Linked DNA regions of Homo sapiens: region 1 is linked to region 2. Evidence: fine-mapped expression QTL. A gene starts in region 2. The other region holds a variant in brackets. All regions are shown on one strand. Distances are between the middles of the regions.

Region 1 (2,902 bases), 170 kb after region 2:
CAGAATCTAAAACCGAGGTGTCACAGGGCCATGATCCCTCTGAAGTCGCCAGGGAAGGGTCTGTCCCAGGCCTGTTTCCTGGTTGCGGGTGGTTGGTGGCAATCTCTGGCGTTCCTGGGCTGGTAGACGCTTTGCCTCCATCTTTACTTCATCTCGCTGTGGGTGTGTCTGTCTCTGTGTTGGGTTAGGACCCATGCTAGTGACCTCAGTTTAACTCGATCCCCTGCAAAAACCCTATCTCCAAATAAGGCCAACTTCTGGGGCACTGGGGATTAGGGTTCAGTTCAGCTCACAACAGAAAGGAATGAGGGGAGACCCTGCCGGGGTGGGGCATGAGGAGCAGACCTTTCAAAATTAAAAAGAAATATTTTTGGTTTTTATATTTTTTTAAGACATGGTCTCACTCTGTCCCAGGCTGGAGTGCAGTGACACTATCTCAGCTCATTGCAACCTCTGCCTCCCAGGTTCAAGTGATTCTCCTGCCTCAGCCTCCTGAGTAGCTGGGATTACAGGCGCCCACCACCTGTAATGCTGGCTAAATTATGCCTGGCTAATTTTTGTATTTTCAGTAGAGACGGGGGTTTCGCCATGTTGACCAGGCTGGTCTCGAACTCCTGACCTCAACTGATTTGTCCACCTCAGCCTCCCAAAGTGTGGGGATTACAGGCATGAGCCACTGCCCCTGGCTGATACAGTGACTTGTTTTCTTTTCATTAGATACCCAGTAGTGGGATTGCAGGATCAAATGGCAGATTTACTTTGAGTTCTCTGAGAAATCTCCATACTGTTTTCTATAGAGGTTGTACTGATTTACTTCCTGTCAGCAATGTATAAGCATTCCCTTTTTACCACATCCATGCCAACATCTATTTGCAGTTTTTTTTTTTGGCTTTTTAATAACGATCACTGTGACTGGGATATATTCTATATCTCATTGTGGTTTCAATTTGCATCTCCCTGATGATTAGTGATGTTGAGCATTTTTTCATATGCTTGGTGGTCATTTGTTGATCTTCTTTTGAGAAGTGTCTGTTCATGGCCTTTGCCCACTTTTTGATGGGAGGGAGCAGGCTTTCTTTTTTTTTTAAAAGAGAAATTGCTGACCAGGAGTAGTGATTCATGCCTGTAATCCCAGCCCTTTGGGAGGCTGAGGCGGTGGATCACTTGAGGTCAGGAGTTCAAGATCAGCCTGGCCAACCTGGCAAAACCCCATCTCTACTAAAAATAGAAAAATTATCTGGGCATGGTGTGACAAGCCTGTAATCTCAGCCCCTCAGGAGG[C/T]TGAGACACGACAATCACTTGAATCTGGGAGGCAGAGGTTGCCGTGAGCCGAGATGGCATCACTGCACTCCAGCCTGGGCGACAAAGTGAGACTCTATCTCAAAAAAAAAAAAGAAAAAGAAGAAATTGCTAATAGCTGGAACAAAACGGCAAGGGAGGAAACAAGTGAGGAGAAGGGGGGTTGTGACCGCAACTGCTTCTGCCTCCTTCTCTTCCATCCCCATCCTCCCACCTCCCATGGCCCTCCAGTGGGGAGGTAGTTGCCTGGTCTGCGGGGCCTCAACCCAACCCATTGCCCTAACCTTCTGAGATCAGATGAACGCTTTGGCTTCAACATGAACAATCTATTTCTCTGTAATTGGTCAAAATTAATGGAGAATAGCACTTGAGCACTGATCTTTTATTTCACTCCCAAACCTCCTCCCTGCTCTGTCTCCTCCTTTTTTTTTTTTTTTTTTTTCTGAGATGGCGCCTTGCCCTGTCGCCCAGGCTGGAGTGCTGTAGCGTGATGTCAGCTCACTGCAACCTCCACCTCCATCTTGATGGGAGGGAGCAGGCCTTCTTTTAAAAAAAGAAATCGTTGACCAGGAGCAGTGGTTTATGTCTGTAATCTCAGCATTTTGGGAGGCTGGCACACTCTGTCTTAGGTGACTGACCACGGCCACCAGCACCCCACTTGAGGACTGCACTCCAGCCTGGGTAACAGACGGAGACCACGTCTCTAAAAAAAAGAAAAATTTAATGGGTTTGGGGAGAACAGAGCCAACATAAAAACAATTAGAGGACCAGGCATGGGTGGTTCATGCCTGGAATCCCAGCACTTTGGGAGGCTGAGGTGGGAGGATCGCTTGAGCCCAGAAGTTTGAGACCAGCCTGGGCAACACAGGGAGACTTTCATCTCTACAAAAAAATGTAAAAATTAGGCATTGTGGTGTGCGCCTGTGGTCCCAGCTACTTGGGAGGCTGAGGTAGGAGGATCACTTGAGGCCAGGAGGTGGAGGCTGCAATAAGCCATGTTTGCACCACTGCAATCCAGCCTGGGTGACAGAGGGAGACTCCGTCTTAAGAAAAAAAAAAAAAGAGGCTTGGCATGGTGGCTTACACCTGTAATCCCAGCACTTTGGGAGGCCAAGGCAGGCGGATCACTTGAGGCCAGGAGTTTAAGACCAGCCTGGCTAACATGGTGAAAATCTGTCTCTACAAAAAATATAGGCCAAGCACAGTGGCTCACACCAGTAATCCCAGCACTTTGGGAGGCCAAGGCGGGCGGATTGCATGAGGTCAGGAGTTCGAGACCAGCCTGGCCAACATGGTGAAACCCCGCCTCTACTAAAAATACAAAAAAATTAGCCAGGTGTAGTTATGTGCCCCTGTAATCCCAGCTACTCAGGAGGCTGAGGCAGGTAAATCTCTTGAACCTGGGAGGTGGAGGTTGCAGCGAGCCAGGATCATGCCACTGCGCTCCAGCCTGGGTGACAGAGCGAGATCTCTCTCTCAAAAAAAAAAAAAAAAAGCTGGGCATGGTGATGCATGCCTGTAGTCCCAGCTACTTGGGAGACTGAAGTTGAAGGATTGCTTGAACCCAGGAGGCGGAGATTGCAGTGAGCCAAGACTGCACTCC
Region 2 (2,902 bases):
CAGTAGAAGAGGTGAACTGAAGAGGAGGGGCTGCAGTCATTGATGAAGACAAGGTCCAAGGCAAAACCACAGACTAACAAGGTAAGGTGGAGGTTGAGATTTATGGAAGCAGAGTTCAGTGACGGACAGGCCAGGGTATGCCAAGGGAGTGCTTATAACTAACTGACCCTGAAAAAGTTTTTTTTTTTTTTTTGAGACAGAGTCTCGTTCTGTTGCCCTGGCTGGAGTGCAGTGGTGCGATCTCAGCTCACTGCAACCTCTGCCTCCCAGGTTCAAGCGATCCTCCTGCCTCAGCCTCCTAAGTAGCTGGGACTGCAGGCGCATGCTTGAGTTCAGGAGTTCCAGAGAGGCCTGGGCAACATGGCGAAACCCGGTCTCTACAAAATATTTAAAAATTAGCCAGGCGTGGTGTGTGCCTGTGTAGTTCCAGGCACTGCGGAGGCTGAGGCAGGAGGATGCTTGAGCCGGAAATGCAGAGGTTGTAGTGACACGAGATCGCGCCACTGCACTCCAGCCTGTGTAATAGTTCCTGGATCAAAAAAAAAAAAAAAAAAAAAAGGAAATGTATCTGAAACTTTCCAAGCTCCAATTTCCTAATCTGAAAAATTGAAATAGCGGTACCTACCTCACAGAGTGGCTAATTTAATGCAGTGCTATTTGCAAGGGATAATTTATCAAACCTTTAGGCGTTGTTCTAAAGTGCCCATTAAATGCTCACTGAACTCACAGCCTTAGGAGGGAGGTTCGAGTTTATGCCCATTTTACATATGAGGACGCGTTGGCAGGTGGTACTGCTGTTCATGGGATCTGTAAAGAGTGAAGAAGGAGTCTCAGCTCTCAGTAGAGTTCATAGGCTCTAGGATTTCTGCTGGAAGTGAGAACACTGCAGGGAGGCAAGAAAGCGGGCATCAGACGGTGCAAAGCGACCCTGGGCCCAGATCGGCGGCCAATGGCTCCCTCCGGTGGCGGAAGCGAAGAGCGCAGCTGGATCGGGCGCGAAGGGAGGATCCCCGCAGCGGGTGAGGGGCGAGGCTGGGACCCGGTGGAGGTTCTAGGGTTTTGAGAGGTTGGAGGACTAGAACTCCAGAAGTCCCTGAACGAAGTGGGCCGGATTTCCCGTGACGCACCTGGCCCAGGTGTTGCAGCCCCGCCCACCTCCCTGCCGCTTTCCGCCATCCTCACACGCCCCCTTTAGTGGGGTGGCTGCTCACCGCACCTCGGAGCTCGGACTGGGGTCCGGCCCCTGCGGCGACGATTGTTTGTACCTAAGTGAAGGAGGCTCCGAGACCCGCGGCCCACGTCCTGCCGGAGACGCTTGTCTGCAGGGCTGCATTGCATCCCCGGGCGCACGTGGAGCTGGAGCAGCGCAGGCTGGGGAAGAGCAGAGAGGGTCGGGCTTCTCCGGGCGCGCCATGGGGCGGGGCCGAGGACGGGGACCAATAGCGCGCGCGTGCTGGTGGGGGTGGGGACAGGCTCCAGGCCTGGCATCCCGGTAGCCGCAGCTGTCTTTTCCGGCCCCCGTGCACTCTCCGCCCGAGCGGAGCCCCCCGGCTCGCGGGGATCGCCCCCGAGCGCTGCGTCCTGCGGGTGGGTGAGTGAGCGCCTCGCGGCCCCCGAGCTGTGGGGTGCACCTGGCCGGGGAGAAGGATATCTTGGCTCCCTTGCACCCCAACGGGCGCAAAGGGGCAGGAGCCCGGATTGGGGGAGGAGGAGGACCCGGGGACCTTGTGTCGCTCGGTGGGAGCCGGTCTGTGTTTCTGTTTCGCTAGGGTGTGTTTGGGTTGGTAGAGTTTGTGGGGAGGGGTGCCTCGTGTGGATGGGAGGAATCGGGGAGGCTAAGGCGAGGAGGAGGGGGTTTGAGATGGGTTGAGGGAGAGGATTGACGGAGGGTGGGGTTTTGAAAGAGTTGGAAGTTTCTTGTTACCTGTGGGTGCGGTGATTGCATTGGGGGGCTTGGTAGGGGCAGCTCAGGACACCGAAGGAGAGGATGGGGAAGGCTCTCCTGCCCGTAACTTACTTCCCTTTTGGGAGATTTGGTTCCTCTTGCATTGCTAGTTAAGGAAGGAGAGGCTGGAGAAGCCTGTGCCGTCAGAGAACCTTTGCCCCTTTCCAGAACCGGTGCCATCCCTAGTCTCAGGAACATAAGGGAAGGGGTGGCCCCCAGGAGCCGGGAGGGGCCTTGAAACCCCTGCTGACAGGTTTGGGGTACCACTTTTTTGTGGGGCAGTGGCTGGTACCATTTGCAGCCCACGGACTTTTTTGAGTTGCCGGTAAGCAGGGTGTGGGTGCGTTCCTGTTTCCTTGCGGTTGTCTCTTTTTTTTTTTTTATTGACACAGGGTCTCGCTCTGTCACCCAGGCTGGAGTGCAGTGGCATGATCTCGGCTCGCTGCAGCCCTACGCCTCCAGGACTCAAGCGATTCTCGTGTCTCAGCCTCCCAAGTAGCTGTGATTACAGGCATGCACCTTCACGCTTGGCTAATTTTTTTTTTTTTCTTGTGAGACGGAGTCTCACTCTGTCACCCAGGCTGGAGTGCAGTGGTGTGATGTCGGCTCACTGCAACCTCTGCCTCCTGGGTTCAAGGGATTCTCCTGCCTCAGCCTCCCAAGTAGCTGGGACTACAGGCATGAGCCACCATGCCCAGCTACTTTTTGTATTTTTAGTAGAGACGGGGTTTCACCATGTTGACCAGGGTGGTCTCGAACTCCTGACCTCAGGTGATCCACCTGCCTCGTCCTCCCAAAGTGCTGGGATTACAGGCATGAACCACCGAGCCTGGCCAATTTTTGTATTTTTAGTAGAGAGCAGCTCTGTCTTTTGGGGAGGCTTCAGGGTGTTTGATTAGTGGTCTTTGGGGGTGGGCGAGCTCTGTGGGGGAGCTTTTGATGCAACATAATCTCCTT

The links.
Region 1: its variant is fine-mapped to the expression of SLC12A9 in whole blood (INTERVAL, PIP 0.98).

What each region holds. Positions count from the first base shown.
Region 1 is chr7:101,023,018-101,025,919 of GRCh38, forward strand. All of the region lies in intron 1 of MUC17 (mucin 17, cell surface associated), which reads left to right. Among named protein-coding and RNA genes, the nearest start is that of MUC17, 4.4 kb to the left of the region's middle. The variant C/T (reference allele first, on the strand shown) is at 1,282.
Region 2 is chr7:100,851,249-100,854,150 of GRCh38, forward strand. It overlaps SLC12A9 (solute carrier family 12 member 9), which reads left to right and starts at 1,465. Exons shown (of 14, transcript NM_020246.4): 1 at 1,465-1,587. SLC12A9-AS1 (SLC12A9 antisense RNA 1) reads right to left here and starts at 1,366. Exons shown (of 2, transcript NR_146550.1): 1 at 1,266-1,366. RefSeq lists enhancers at 682-881, 952-1,101 and a silencer at 1,392-1,701.